2 separate regions of the Homo sapiens genome follow, and region 2 is linked to region 1. A link means that fine-mapping ties the variant in region 1 to the expression of a gene that starts in the linked region. Tissue or cell type: whole blood. Region 1 holds a variant in brackets; the other region holds the start of a gene. All regions are shown on one strand. Distances are from middle to middle.

Region 1 (8,264 bases):
TAAAAGGTGAGTTTATTGAGTTAACATGTATTACAGCTATTTTCTTCCCTCTGCCTTTTTCTTTTTTGTATTTCTTGTGTTATTTATTCTTGTTTTGTTGTTTATTAGGTCTGTTTTTTTCTCACTCTCTTCTTTATACCACCCCACCCTTTGAATTAGAAAAGTTTTTAGTTCTACAAGTTGTTACCTTTATGTATTTATATATTTTAAGATCTTTTAGAATTTTTCTGCTTGGTATTCCAAACATTGTCTTCTGATACCCTTACAAAAGATGAAGAAATTAGCTCATGAATATTACTTTCTTTCCCTGTGTACATCATTTCCCCACTTATATTGTGCTCACTGGGATTTTTGACGCAGGGTATTTCATTCAATTTTTTTTTTTTTTTTTTAATTTTCTTGCCTTGCTTTGTAGCTGTTTTACTGATTTAGAAAGCTAGATAAGAGACGACAGAAATATATTGCAAGAAAATGAACCTCAAATGAGATGGTCCTGGTTTAATCTGTGGCCTGAAGCGTAGACTTTTCCTACTTTCAGTTCTTCATTTTATTTTATTTTATTTTACTTTTTAAAATTAGAGACAGGATCTTGCTATGTTACCCAGGCTGGAGTTGAACTTTTGGGCTCAAGCAATACTCCCACCACAGCTTCTTGAGTAGCTAGGACTACAGGAATGCATCACCACACCTGGCCCTACTTTCAGTTCTTATAGTTTCAACAAGAGGATTGTGGGTTACTTGTGGTCCTATGTACATTAATAAATAAGAAATAATGAAAATCAGTAAGCATCTGATTCACAATATTAGAAAAAGAACAAAATGAATTTAAGGAAAGCCCAGATAAGTTATATGTAGTGATTTATACGTCTACAAATAAAAGTAGGAATAAATGAATTAGAAACAGTAGCGCTACTGAAAATAAAGTATTGTACATACTTCATTAGAAAACCAACACAGTATATAAACTAAGGACAAATGAGAGAAAACACAAAAACAAAATAATTATAAATAACCACACATGCATAAGAACTTAAAAGAATCATGTGAATCTATTTTCCTCAACTCTCCATAAAATAATTTGAAAAAATAGATGATATTCTAGAAGAATATAATAATGTAGGTTACCATAACTGATACCAAGAGGAGATACAACATTTAAACAAGTAAGTTACCATCAGAGAAATGTAGAATGTTGTATAGGAACTGCCTCCCCCAAGAAAAGAAGCCACATCCCCGAATAGTTCTTTAAGGAAAAATATCATCAATGTTGTTTAAATTGTTCTGGGATAGAGAATAAAAAGAGAGCTTAAAACATTTTTGTTTATGAATACAGCATATCCGATGATACCAAAATTACCAAAATAGCACCAAAAAGAGAAATTAGAGACAAACCTCAATTATCAATATTGGTTCAAAATCTTAAAAGGTCATATTGAAATAGTATACCATGGCCAAGGAGGATTTATTACAGCAGTGCAAGGATGGTTGTATCACCTAATCTTATGTAAGAACCATAAAAACATGTACCTCTGCTTGTGGGTTTCAATAACTATGTGATTCACATTTTCATTTTCGAAATTTCCATTATTCTAGCATTTAATAAAGGAGACATTTACTTTCTTAATATCTTTCAGACTTGGAGTGTGTGTGGGTGACCAAATCATTATCTTTAAACCAGGATATTTATGAAGAAAAATTACCCCCGGCAATCATAATGGAAAGACTTAAAAGCTATGACCTTGAATGTTCAACATTAGGGAAAAACTGGAAATGTGAAGACTTGTTTGAGAGGGAGCTTGTAAACCAGAAGACACATTTTAGGCAAGAGACCATCACTCATATAGATACTCTTATTGAAAAAAGAGATCACTCTAACAAATCTGGGACAGTTTTTCATCTGAATACATTATCTTATATAAAACAGATTTTTCCCATGGAAGAGAGAATATTTAATTTTCATACAGATAAGAAAAGCTTAAAAACACATTCAGTTGTGAAAAAACACAAGCAAGACCGTGGAGAAAAGAAACTTTTAAAATGTAATGACTGTGAGAAAATATTCAGCAAAATCTCAACCCTTACTCTTCACCAAAGAATTCATACAGGAGAGAAACCCTATGAATGTATTGAATGTGGAAAGGCCTTTAGCCAGAGTGCCCACCTTGCTCAACATCAGAGAATACACACAGGAGAAAAACCTTTTGAATGTACTGAATGTGGGAAAGCCTTCAGCCAGAATGCTCATCTTGTTCAACACCAGAGAGTTCATACTGGAGAGAAACCTTATCAGTGTAAGCAGTGTAATAAAGCATTCAGCCAGCTTGCACACCTTGCTCAACATCAGAGGGTCCACACTGGAGAGAAACCCTATGAATGTATTGAATGTGGGAAGGCTTTTAGTGATTGCTCATCCCTAGCTCATCATCGAAGGATTCACACTGGGAAAAGACCTTATGAATGTATTGACTGTGGGAAAGCTTTCAGGCAGAATGCTTCTCTTATACGTCATCGGCGATATTATCATACTGGAGAGAAACCCTTTGACTGTATTGATTGTGGGAAGGCTTTCACTGATCACATAGGACTTATTCAGCATAAGAGAACTCATACTGGAGAGAGACCTTACAAATGTAATGTGTGTGGGAAGGCTTTTAGCCATGGCTCATCTCTGACAGTACATCAGAGAATTCATACAGGAGAGAAACCTTATGAATGCAATATCTGTGAGAAAGCCTTCAGCCATCGTGGGTCTCTTACTCTTCATCAGAGAGTTCATACTGGAGAGAAACCCTATGAATGTAAAGAATGTGGGAAAGCTTTCCGGCAGAGCACGCATCTGGCTCATCATCAGAGAATTCATACTGGAGAGAAACCTTATGAATGTAAGGAATGCAGCAAAACCTTCAGCCAGAATGCACACCTCGCGCAACATCAGAAAATACACACTGGGGAGAAACCTTATGAATGTAAGGAATGTGGTAAGGCCTTCAGTCAGATTGCACACCTTGTTCAGCACCAGAGAGTTCATACTGGTGAGAAGCCTTACGAATGTATTGAATGTGGGAAGGCCTTTAGTGATGGCTCATATCTTGTTCAACATCAGAGACTCCACAGTGGCAAAAGACCGTATGAATGTCTTGAATGTGGGAAGGCATTCAGGCAGAGGGCATCCTTGATTTGTCATCAGAGATGTCATACTGGTGAGAAACCTTATGAATGTAATGTTTGTGGGAAAGCCTTTAGCCATCGTAAATCCCTTACTCTGCATCAGAGAATTCATACAGGAGAGAAACCTTATGAGTGTAAGGAATGTAGCAAAGCCTTCAGCCAGGTTGCCCATCTTACTCTACATAAGAGAATTCATACTGGAGAAAGGCCCTATGAGTGTAAAGAATGTGGAAAAGCCTTCAGGCAGAGTGTACATCTTGCTCATCATCAGCGAATTCATACCGGAGAGTCATCAGTTATTCTCTCCTCTGCCCTCCCATACCACCAAGTCCTATAGATTCAATCTCGTAAATGCTTCTAGCATCCATCTGCTTTTTTCCAGCACATGTCCCATCATCATAGTCCAAGACGCAACCATCTCATCTGGATTTCTGCAGTAGCATAACTGTTGCCCCTTTTGCTTCTATCAACTACATGTTTAACACTGTAGGCAGCCTAACCTTTTAAAAATAAAAATACATAATTTATGTTATTTTCCCATTTAAAACACTTGATTTGAAAAATATATTAACTAATCCATTTCAAGGATTTAGCACACACTGGCATATAGTTATTGCTAAATAAATGCTAGCCATTAAGGTAAAGGTTTCCTTACAAACTATCATATTAAGCAGCAAGTAAACCAAACAGTAAGTCTAAGACTAAGATTTTAGAGCAGACAGAAGACTACTCTCCTGGTAGAGAGGAAAGATGAACAAACTCAGAATTGAAAGATTTA[TGGTACACAA/T]GGTAACATGGTGGCTTATCACTCCCTCTGTGACATTGTTGATGAGCAACTCTCACTTTACCTGACACTGAGAAGTGAGAATCAGCCAATTAGAACAAAAGCTTTTAGCTGGGTGCGGTGGCTCATGCCTGTAGTCCCAGCACTTTGGGAGGCTGAGGCAGGCAGATTGCTTGAGCTCAGGAGTTCGAGACCAACCTGAGCAACATGGTGAAACCCTGTCTCTACAAAAAATACAGAAATTAGCCAGGCGTGGTGGTGCACACCTGTAGTCCTAGCTACTCAGGAGGCTGAAGCAGGAGGATTGCTTGAGCCCAGGAGGTAGAGGTTGCAGTGAGTCATGATCACACCACTGCAATTCCAGCTGGGCAGCAGAGCCAGACACTGTCTCAAGGAAAAACAAAGAACAAAAGCATTTGGTAGAATGTAGGACTAACCAGGGTAGGTAGTAGTAAACCAAAAGTAACAAGCCAAAAAAACTTGAATAGATTAATAGCCATGAAACACTGAAAAGGGTAGTTCAATACTTTGGCCTTTATAAAAGTACCACAGACAATTCGTGTGGTATTTAAATTGTTCTAGCATAAAATAAAATGCAATAAGACCTTCCATCTTGTTCCATGAGATTGACAAGACATGCCAAAACATAAAAATATGTACACTGCAATTAGTTTCTGAATGTAGATGTTACAACTTAAACTTATTTTTAAAATATTTAAAAATAGGAAGGCTAGACATGCCTCTGTATAGAAAATCTGATAAAAATATTTCTCCCTAAATTGTAAATTCATTGATATTCCAGTAAAAATTTCCATATTTTTTTAGTTGAGAAGCTGATTCTGATCATCTGTAGAATTTTGATTTTAACGAGGAATGTAGTTTACATTAGGAATGTAGTACTAATACTAATTGAACATTTGCTAATGTTTCACACACTATTTTAGGTGCTGGGGGATACAGTAAGGTACAAGATGGACAAAAATACGTGCTCTTACAGATCTAGTAGAACAGAAAAAATTAAATGCATGCTATGTGATAAGTATATGATATGTCCCATAAAGAGAAATGATATAAAAAAGAAGCTAGGGAGTGCTGGATCAGGCACCTTACTATCCCCAGAACATGTTGGTATTAGAGGATGAGGGAAGAACTAGAGGTAACTGTGAGACACAAAAGGCATAATGAAAATAGTCATGATAGTCCCAAGGCAGATATTGTTTATGATGCTTTGAGTGTTGGAGGAAGGGAGGATTGATGGTTTAACAGAGATCATGGCAGTTATGTTCACTCATATAAATGTTGATTTAGAAGCTGGTGGAAGGGTATTTTTTGAGTGACAGCTTTATTGAGACAAAGCAATTCTGGAGAACACCCATATCCTTCTCTCTGTATCCATCAGCAGAAGTGAAGAGGGAGCCCCAAAGTTCCACTTAAAGTGTACAACTTATGGCTTTTAGTTCATTCACGGAGTTGTGCAACCATCACCACCATCAATTTTAGAACATTTTCATCACCTCAAAGAGGAATCCCTTGTCCTTTTGTAGTTATGGCCATCCCTGGAAGAGTACTTTTTTTTTTTTTTCAACTGAAGCACCCAGAGCTCTTGGGTTCCCTCTTAACTGCTTTCTGTGGAAGTATAGAGGGCCATGTGAGGGAAGCCGTTATCCAGAGTACATGACTGCTAGAAAATGGAGTTTGGGGCTCCCTCTTCACTTCTGCTGATAGAAGCATAATGGCTAGGGGATGGGTAGTCTCACCAGAGAATGTGGAGCTTTCAGACTCTCCTTATATATGATAAAAAGGATTTTTCATTGTAGTGGGGAAAAGGTGGTTTGATCAAATGGCATTGGGAAACTTAGCTCACTGGAAAAACAGATCTGTACCTTTCACACTAATGAAATGCCTGAGATATTAAAGGTCTAAATGTAAAATTAAAGTACATGAAAAACAGAATAATATATATGTACCCTCGGTTTGAAATAGACTTTAAGCACTAATGCATAACCCCAAAGCTGACATTAGGCTTTTATATGGTGGAAAACATCATAGTCAATAGATAAATGAGAGACTGACACAAAGTGTTTGCAACAGATATAATAAAGGACTGTAATTCGTGATATTCAAAGTACTATTACAAACCAATAATAATCTGCAACTTAGAAAAATGGACTAATGTCCCATTCACAAAAGATGCAATAAAAGCAGTTAATGAAAATTATCCAATATCACTAGAAATCAAGAAATGCAAATTAAAGTGATTATCTACTTTTTCCCCAAAAGACTGACTAATCGAGTGATAACATTCAGTATTGGTGAATGTGTGGAAACAAGGGAATTCCATTGTTGATTACATATCTATTGCTTTATGTATATACCCTTTGAATTAATATTCCTTGGAAACCAACATATACAAAGGTAGATAAATGTATTAGTGGCAAAAAAATTAATGGTAAACTATTAAAACAACAAGTGTCCATCAGGGTAATAAATAAATTAATTATGGTATATATCCATTCAATAGGAATTATGCAGCTGTTGAAAAAAAATCAATGTGTGTAGTCATAGAAAGATAGCTGTGCTATACTAAATGAAAAATTGCAGACCTGTATTGTAGTATAGGCCCATAATTGTGATATCAAAAATAAAAATCAAAATATATATTATAGTAGGCATTTGTTTTTCTCTGCCCAGTTTCCCTTGCCTCCTCCTTTTGGCTGCACTATCTCATCTTTTCCTTTTGAGTAACTGGCCATACCCTACCATATGTTTTTGATGGACGTGGCCAATAAAATTGTCTCTGAATTTCAAAAGGCATTTGGATCTGTGTCATCCAATGGCAACTCCCTAAAAGCTGATGCAGTTATTCTTTTGATTGGTCCTTGGAACCACCCTGGTTTTTGTACTTTCCAAGTCTGTGATTCCTCAAACTACCCATTGTCTTTCCGGTACTTGATTTTTGCCTCCTGTTGGTCAGTTGCTTGCAAGTAAAGAAACAATCATACAGAATTTGGTACGAAGATTGGGTAATGGGCATTAGAATCTTTGGAAAAATCAGGTATTGGGAGTTGCTTTTTGGATGAGATGGGGCGAATAAGACTTATATTCTAGACTGGAAAGCATCTCATGGTGTGCGATGAGCAAACGCCTGATTATTCATTATAGTCACCTGGGATGAATAGAGGTCTAGGGTTCTGGATAATGATAATTTAAGGAGGATGGAGAATGCTGAATCCAAAAGGTATATGTAATACTGGTATCTAACTGCTTGGAATAACTTAAAGTTTAGCTCTTGAATTTCTAGCATTAAGGCAAAAAAAATTCACCTAAGGGATTTTGTATGATATTGTTGAAAGATGTCTTACATTGTTTAAAGTCATAGGGTTAAGATGGCTCATAACCAAATTTAGAGACTATTTTTATGCATTGTTAAAGTGGAATGCTGGTTAAATTTTATACTTTATTCACAAGAGTCACTGTGAATTGAATTGTGAATTCAGTTCTGAATTGTGTTCCCACCAGCACCACCAAATGCTGGCCTCTACCACCACCAAATTTACTTGTTGAAGTCCTAAACCCCAACATGACTGTATTTGGACATAAGGCCTTTAAGAAACTAAGGTTAAGTTAGGCCATAAGAGTGAGGCCCTAATCCCATAGGACTAGTGTCCTTATAAGAGGAAGAGACACCAGAGGTTTGTCTCTCCACATGTGCACAGAGGAAATGCTGTGTAAGGACACAACAAGAATGCTGCCATCTGCAAGCCAGGAGGAGAGACCTCACCAGGAACCAGCCCTGCCAGCACCTTGATCTTGGACTTTTAATCTCCAGGACTGTGAGAAAATAAATGTTGGTTGTTTAAGCCACCCAGTCTGTGGTATATTGTTACGGCAGCCTGAACTGATTAATGCAATTACCATATAATTTATTGTTCAAACTGGGACATTTTTGAGAGTGAAAGGAGTAGCTAACTGCACAGGGCACTTGACAACAGGTGTTCATATCCTCAGCAAAGCAGGATATATGGTCATACTTCTTGTGTAACAGAATATTGAACAGAAAAAAATATAGCTCTACTATTGGAAAGGTGATATTGGAGATGAGCCAAAGGATTGGAATATACTGAACTTCCGGATTCGTGTGATATACCACCTATTAACATCTGTTTGCATAGGTACATATGGCTGTTCTGAAGAGACAGCTAACAGTTCATCTTATTCCCCCATTCCATTGTTGCTCACATGGAATAACAAAGTGAATTTAACATGACCATAACATTAAATGCAAAAATCAGGCTGAGCACAGTGGCTCATG
Region 2 (8,000 bases), 190 kb before region 1:
CTCACCTGGACACAGGCCTCCAGACACCACTCTCTCCACCATCCAGGGCTCTTTGCCTTGCTCTAGGAAGGAGATCACATCAGGTTTGGAAACGGCAAGACCTGGAGATGAGAAGAAACATGCCACCTGGTTATGGTGTGGGGGCCCCAGAATTCAGATCCAGGACCTGGTCATCAAGCAGGAGAGGCAGTTGCAGGAAGTGCCAGAGGAAGATGGGACAGTTGCCTGGGGGTAGGGGGATGCAGCTTCAGCCGACAGCGCCGCCCTTTAACCCCTCAAAAATGACCAACCAATCATAAGACTGAAAAGCACCCAAAAACTGACCAGGAAGGAACATGCCCAAGGATAACCTCCAAACTAACAGACGAGATCACCTTACCCAGTGAGACCAGGTTGCTGTAGGTCTCCAACATCACGTCTCTGTACAAATCCCTCTGAGCAGGTGCCAACCACTGCCATTCTTCTTGGGAGAAGACTATGGCCACATCCCTGAACAATTCTGACCCCTGGAATGACAGGCATGTATGATATATATGTATTTCAATGGTTCACAGTGGGATGAAAGGAGATGGGGCAGGTCTTTGCGGGAGGGGGGGTTGTTTTGTTGAACAAGAAGGGTGGGACTGAATGTGAAAGGTGACAGAAGAAATGGGGATGAGTAAAACAGAATGATCAAATTGTTCTCAAACATTCCTTTTAACTGCAAATCAATGCTCTGTGTACAGGTCTGGGATGAAAATTAAAATCAAGCTAAATGGAGTTTTCCTTATTGTTAAGAAACAGTGTAATAAAGCACACTGCCCACTCTATACTTGGCATACAATAAATTCTCAAGGTGAGACCTATCACTTCTATCTTTTGGAATAACAATAACAACAAAAAATATTTCTGATGGATTTTCCCCAAATATTTTATTTTTTAAAATTATGGAAACATGTTTTCTATCTTAGATACAGGATTTTCATGTAAGTCAAGAATTTCTTGGAGATGAAAGTTCATCATTATGTTGGAACATAACACAAGCATTTTTCTTCATGGGAAAAACCATGGAGATAACTTTTATTGAGTGCACAATTTTCTATCAAGTGAAACAACTGACTCAAACATCCTCTTATTTTGGATCCCGAGGTTGGATCAGATCTCTAAGGCTTTTCCAAGCCCTGACCACTCACCCACCTAGATGATCATCTCACTTGCTACATCGCTCACCATCCTCAGCTCTGTACTTTTCTTCCTCTTAAGCTAAAGAAACTAATGGAGGATGTCCCAGATTCAAATGCTCTGTCCAACGTCAAACTAGACTTTAATTCTGGCATCAAATTTTTGATGGATTCCCAGCCAAACCTCAATTACATATCCAATCATTAATCATTCCCAAAGCAGGACACTGTACCATGCGCTGAAACTGAAACCAACCAACACCACCTCCCCTGCTTTTCTATATGTGATTGCTCCTAAGCATTCATTCCATCTCTTCAAACTTCAGTTCTTACAAAGGATGCTCTCATTTCATACAGGGAAATGAGTTTCTCCTCCTAGCAGACGAAAACCATCAGGAGATGCAGAATGCTATAGAGAATAAATCTGTGGGCATTTGTCAGAGGGGAGAGGACAATGGGAGAGGAGACTCCTGCCTGGTCCTTTTATTCCCTAAAATGGGAAAGTCTGAGAACCAAATTTCTGGATGGAACCCAGGTGGAAAGTTTCAAGATAAGGAAAGCAAATATTTATGGGATTTAAAAACTCACAAGGGACATGACTTTTAGAATTTCAAGGGCTGATAGGTCCTCCTTCTGGTTCCTCTCTTGGGGAAGGGCAGAGTCCTGCGACGGTAGAGCTGGGGGAGGAAAGAGCAAACATGAGAGGCTAGGCTTGCCTCACAGTTCCTAGAATGCCAAGTTACAAGTCCCCACCTGCTTGCCCTCTGCCCACCAAGAAAATGAGAAGGAGGGGGAGGCAAAGGGATCCTCACCCAACCCCAGGAAACCAGCTTTAGCTGCTGCAAGGCAAAGGGGAACCAGTGGTCCTTTCCCTCCCATTTCCCCTAAACATCCAGTGGTTCTGTTTTGCTGCAAATGCAAGTCTAAGACAGGGATGCTGAGGGCTGTTCTAGTGACTGAGACCCACATGTTACCTCAAGGACAAGGAGGGCTTCCCTCAAGCCAGGGAGCATAGAAGGCCTGCATCATTTGCATAGCCCCAGCCTAGAATAAAGCCTTTCCAGGACTAGGCCATTTAACTCTCTCCTGCAGCAAATATAACACCTTTGAAAGTCTACCTGGCTCTTTTCCCAACCGCCAAATATACAAAAAGCTCTACAGCCCAAACTGAGGCTTTGTGCATGCCACTTCATGGAGCATGCCTTGCATCAACAAATGGGATAGAGTTGGAAGGAACAGTAAGAGACAAATTACACACAGCACGCCCAGTGCTCCATTATCAGCACATAAATGTGTCCTTCCATAGAGACACAGCAGTGCACAAAGCTGCATGTCCAATAATATTTGCTAAATAGGAGAACTGAAAATTAGTACGTAAGTAGGCAAGTCCACAAGTAGCCAAGAGGTTGAATCATTTTTGGCACAGCCATATAATGGGATGCCAAGTGACTATCAAAAATGACTATCAAAAACTGACAAGCAAAGATATTAACTACTGAATCCTTTGAGAACATTCAGCAAAAAGAAGTCAAACTCACTAACACACAGGCTAAAAACAAAACAAAACAAAAAAATTGGAAGAAAAAACACCCAAGTATTCGCAGTGTTGTCATTTAACCAGTTCTTGAGCTCACTGTTAAACAAGAAGTACTCTGTAAAGGAGTATATAAGGTGCCTACTGCATTACAAACATTTGGTTCTAAGTAACGTGTAAGTGAAATAATTATGAATGTTGCTTAATATGATGTAATAGGCAGCTTTTCCTTATTATGACCACTTTTATAAGCATTATTTGTATTAACTGCACGATATCCTATTTACAAAGGATGGCCTGTGATCCACTCAAGTGTTTCCCCATTGCTGGACATAGAATTTGAACATATAAAATGTTCCCAAGTATAAGTTTTTCTAAACTAGCGGTTCTAAGTCTTCTGGGGTCTTGTAACTCTCTGAGAACCTCATGAAACAAGATTTCCTCTCAGATTAAAAAAAAAAAAAGGCACGCATAACAGTGAATGCAAAACATCCGCAATTTCAGGGGGTCGGAGACCCCTGCGCACCCACCTAAGGGGTCCATGCACCTGGGCTATGAGGCTGGAAGCAGAAAGGGGGCGCCAGAAAGCGCACGCCGCGAGGGCCGGCGGGAAATGTAGTCTCACGCCGGTAAAGCCACAGAGCGACGATGAGGCGAGACGTCTGCGTTCTTCTCAGGCCTGAGACCCAACCGGCCCGGGCACCAGCTCCTGCTGGACCCCAGAGCGCCTGGAAAGCTCCGGAACCTCTCACCTGCCGCCTCCTCGGGTCCAAGTGCCACCGCGGCCGCGCCCCCGGCAGCCCAGGGCGCGCTTCCACCACGGTACCGGTGGATTCGCCGTGCGCAGCCGGAAGATGGCGCAGACGCACAAAGCACACCGATGCTGCGCCATGATAGGGCCGGCGCCGCAGTGTCTTCCGGGAAACATAGTCTTTAGGCGTAAAGGCAGCAGCCCGGCCTTGAAGCCGGATCTCGCGATGTTTCAGGGTGAGCCGGACGCAGGCGTGCCTGCGCAGTGCGCGGAGGAGTGCTGTTCGTGTGTTCGAGTCCCTGGGTTGCTTCCTGGGGTCTGTGGTGCTGGGTGTGCTATCTGCGTGTGATTCTCTAGCGAGAGATTGTGGGCGAGTGACCGAGTGGGCAAGGGGCCGTCACTGTGTGTGCGTGATTTTGACAGTGTGTGGTGGTAGCTTCTGACTCCGCGTGGGTCGTTGAATGTATGACTGGGACCGTTTAGCGGTGGATACACAACTGTGTGCGGCTGTGGAAGATTGCCTCATCCGTTACGTTCCCATTTCCGTGGAACAACAGTTTTACCAGAAGGTTTCGAAGGAACCTTAAAGTTTGGAAGCGTAAGAGTTTATCTGGTAACTAATTTTAAACATTACATCTATGGTGAGTTAAATGTGGGTTATGAAGGAGAACGCAAAATAAAAACGTTATAAAGATGTAAAGGAGTTTTATGGGGCGGCATCTCTTGGGCAAATATCAGACCGCCGTAGGTAGTTGTTAATTCTCTCTTGTTTTTAGGCGGCTTTGGTGTCATCAAATGTGAGAAGCCCTGGACTTTACACATCCCGAGCCAGTGTGATCCAGTATGATTGGGAGTCCGAGTGCCAGATGCCGGTCAGGACCTGTTATGCTGGGTCTCAGAATGCGGAAACTCTCCCTGTCCGAGGTGGAACAGTTTGTCCTTGAGTGAGGACTGGAGTCCTGAGTGACTCTTTTGATTTGATCCTGTTTCCCTCAAACCTGGTGAGCTCTATGGTGTAATAAATGGTTAAGAGTGTGAACCCTTAACCATCTCTAAGACTGGAGCCAGAATGCCTGAACTCCAGTCTTAGAGATGTGCCTCGGTCTCCACATTTGAAAGTGAGGATGATTGTGGCATCTAATTCATTGAGTTGTTGGGGAGGAGTAACTGATATGTAAAATAATGCTACTGCTGCTGGATAAGGATGCTAATATGACTGAAGCTAATGCTTTCTTTCTGCAAAGATGCTTTTTCCAAAACACACCATATTGCCTCTTTACACATTCTTCAGGAGAGGGTAGAGGCTGCATTTTCCTTGTAGGTGCGGTGATGTGGTGGAAAGCACACTTTTAGAATTAGACAGATGTGGATTCAAATAGCATTTCAGCCATTTATTAGTTTCTTCGTGCCTATCTCGGTTTTGTTTTGTTTTTTTTTTTTTGTCCATAAAAGGAAGAATGTAATGCTGGGCTTGCAGCTTTGTCCTGAGGGTCAAATAAAATGATTTAATAATATAAGCAAAGCTCAGAGGTTGGTTATTGCTGATTACTGATATTAAAAGACAACTTCAGCAAGGATGGTTGAATTTCACACTTGTGAGCGGACAGTTGAGGAGACAGTTGTAGATTTATCCTACTTGACCTTATTTGTGGTTCAAGACAGTGTTGCGAGTTCAAGAGGAGAGGGTAGATGCAAAAAGTCATCATCTTTCCTATGTTCTCTGATCTTGGGAAGGGGCGAGTGGCTCTAGTTTCCCTTTAACATCCCACTGTGTTGAGTGTGTCTATATGTACATGCGTCAGTATTTGCTTATGGAGGAAAGGAAGGAAAAAGACCAAACAGGTACAAAGCCAGCCATCTCTCAGGCTAACTTTCTTCTATACCATTTTTACTTTCTCACATTCATTAATCTGCCAAAGAGAAATTTAGAGGATGATGAAATGGCCACTTCTGACTCTGAACCAAGCCTCTGAAGTCATACACCATTATACTCTTGGTCACAAAATCAGCTGTGAGTCTAAGTAGGTGGAGGCTACACAAGAGTATAAGTACTAGGAGGCAGGGATCATTCAGGGTCGTCTTAGAGGGTGGCTTCCAGTTTCTTCCTTTTAAGAGTATGAGAATGCTCTGAGCTAGCCTCTCCATTCCATGGAATCCATAGGTCTTTTGTCAGCCACTTCCCAGTACACATTCCTGTGCCAAAGCACATGCAGAGTTTGTAGGGTCCAGCCCCACAGGGTCGGTTGGTTTCTCCCCGTGTGCGGAGACGAGAGATTGTAGAAATAAAGACGCAAGACAGAGATAAAAGAAAAGACAGCTGGGCCCAGGGGACCACTACCACCAAGACGCGGAGACTGGTAGTGGCCCCGAATGCCAGGCTGCGCTGATATTTATTGGATACAAGACAAAGGGGCAGGATAAGGAGTGTGAGCCATCTCCAATGATAGGTAAGGCCACATGGGTCACATGTCCACTGGACAGGGGGCCCTTTCCTGCCTGGCAGCCGAGGCAGAGAGAGAGAGGAGAAAGAGAGAGAGAGCTTACACCATTATTTCTACTTATTAGAGACTTAGTACTTTCACTGGTTTGCTACTGCTAACTAAACGGCAGAGCCAGGTGTACAGGATGGAACATGAAGGTGGACTAGGAGCGTGACCACTGAAGCACAGCATCACAGGGAGACGGTTAGGCCTCCGGATAACTGCAGGTGGGCCTGAGGCCCTCCACAAGTGGTGGAGGAGTAGAGTCTTCTCTAAACTCCCCCGGGGAAAGGGAGACTCCCTTTCCCGGTCCGCTACGTAGCAGGTGTTTTTCCTTGACACTAACACTACTGCTAGACCACGGTCCGCTTGGCAACGGGCATCTTCCCAGATGCTGGCATCACCGCTAGACCAAGGAGCCCTCTGGTGGCCCTGTCTGGGCATAACAGAAGGCTCGCACTCTTGTCTTCTGGTCACTTCTCACTATGTCTCCTCAGCTCCTATCTCTATATGGCCTGGCTTTTCCCAGGTTATGATTATAGAGTGAGGATTATTATAATTTGGAATAAAGAGTAATTGCTACCAACTAATGATTAATGATATTCATATATAATCATATCTAAGATCTATATCTGGTATAACTATTCTTGTTTTATATTTTATTATACTGGAACAGCTCGTGTCCTCGGTCTCTTGCCTTGGCACCTGGGTGGCTTGCCGCCCACAGAGTTACTCCAGCAGCTCCCTCTCCTGTTATCCCCAGCCATATCCGTGCTTCTGCCAGATTCCTTCTGTTTCAGGATCACCCATTATCACTTGAATGAGATCAACTGTGGGGAGGTGGGCCATATTCTGTTGTGCATAGTAATCCAAGCAAGGAATCACACAACAAAGTGGGTTCTAACCCAATCTTAGCTACTTACTCCCTGAGTGACCTTGGGCACCTCCCCCAATTTTTCTGACCTAAAATCTGTGCATTATAATAATAATAAATTTCCACGGAGGAAGTATAACCTTTTCAACAAACAGTGCTGGAGCAACTGGACATCCATAGCCAAAAAAGAAAAAGGATAAAAGGCTTTTCTGCAGTACTAATCCAGGAGAAAAATAAATGTATTGCATCTTCCTTGTGACAACTGAGGACAAAATACATGTGGCCTCTCTCTGAGGACTTTTTTTTTTAAGAGACAAGGTCTCACTCTGTCACCCAAGCTGGTGTGCAGTGGTGTTCCTGGACTGAACTGAAGGTCAGGCTGCTTATTCTCGCAGCCCTATAACAAGATGCTGATGAACTGTGAAAGAAGAGAGTTTTATTTCTGTAACCGGGTACAGGGAGAGGGCCAGAAAAATATTGCCAGACCAACTCAAAATTACAAAGTTTTCCAGTGCTTATCTACCTTCTAAGCTATATGTCTACATGTTAGTGTGCATTCATCTAAAGACACAAGTGATTAATTTCTTCTAATCTATAACTAAGGTCTGAGTTATAGACCTTGGGGACATTCCTCTGGAGCCTCAGTGATTTTACTTACTCTAGATGGGTCCAAGTGCCAAAGGTAATTACCTTATCTTGTCTCCTACTAAGTTATGGAGGTCTGGAGAGTTCCTTTAGACCCCCAATAAAACTTGTTTAATCCTAAATGGATCCTGGTATGAGGAGTGTGACCATTCCTTCATTATTTTGTCATGCTTCAAATCATCAGCCTTTGTGTTAGGGCGCTGGCTCTCTCAGCCTTTAATATTTAACCTAACCATTTAGTCAATGCTAGAACAGTTCTTATGGAGGCCTGCCTGTTCAGTTTTTGTGAGATCTGGCTTGCCACAGTGGCACAAACGGCTTACTGCAGCCTCAACTTCCTGGGCTTAAGCGATCCTCCTACCTCAGCCTCCCAAGTAGCTGAGAACACAGGTGCGTACCACCACACCAGCTAATTTTTCTTTTCTTTTTTTTTTTCTGTAGAGATGGGAGCCTCACTGTATTGCCCAGGCTGGTCTTGAACTCCGGAGCTCAAGTGATCGTCTTGCTTCAGCCTTGCAAAATGATGGTGAAGCTGCATCATTGTCTGGGGTAAATA

What was found. PIP is the estimated chance that this variant, and not a neighbour inherited with it, causes the effect.
Region 2: ZNF582-DT starts here. The variant in region 1 is fine-mapped to the expression of ZNF582-DT in whole blood (TOPMed, PIP 0.99).

Annotation. Positions count from the first base shown.
Region 1 is chr19:56,575,079-56,583,342 of GRCh38, forward strand. ZNF470 (zinc finger protein 470) reads left to right here. Exons shown (of 6, transcript NM_001001668.4): 6 at 1,635-7,816. The coding sequence ends at 3,505. Among named protein-coding and RNA genes, the nearest start is that of ZNF470-DT, 11 kb to the left of the region's middle. The variant TGGTACACAA/T (reference allele first, on the strand shown) is at 3,947.
Region 2 is chr19:56,389,996-56,397,995 of GRCh38, forward strand. It overlaps ZNF582-DT (ZNF582 divergent transcript), which reads left to right and starts at 3,681. Exons shown (of 2, transcript NR_037160.1): 1 at 3,681-4,058; 2 at 7,886-8,000. It overlaps ZNF582 (zinc finger protein 582), which reads right to left and starts at 3,539. Exons shown (of 5, transcript NM_001320371.4): 1 at 3,225-3,539; 2 at 1,749-1,837; 3 at 380-506; 4 at 6-101. The coding sequence starts at 1,757.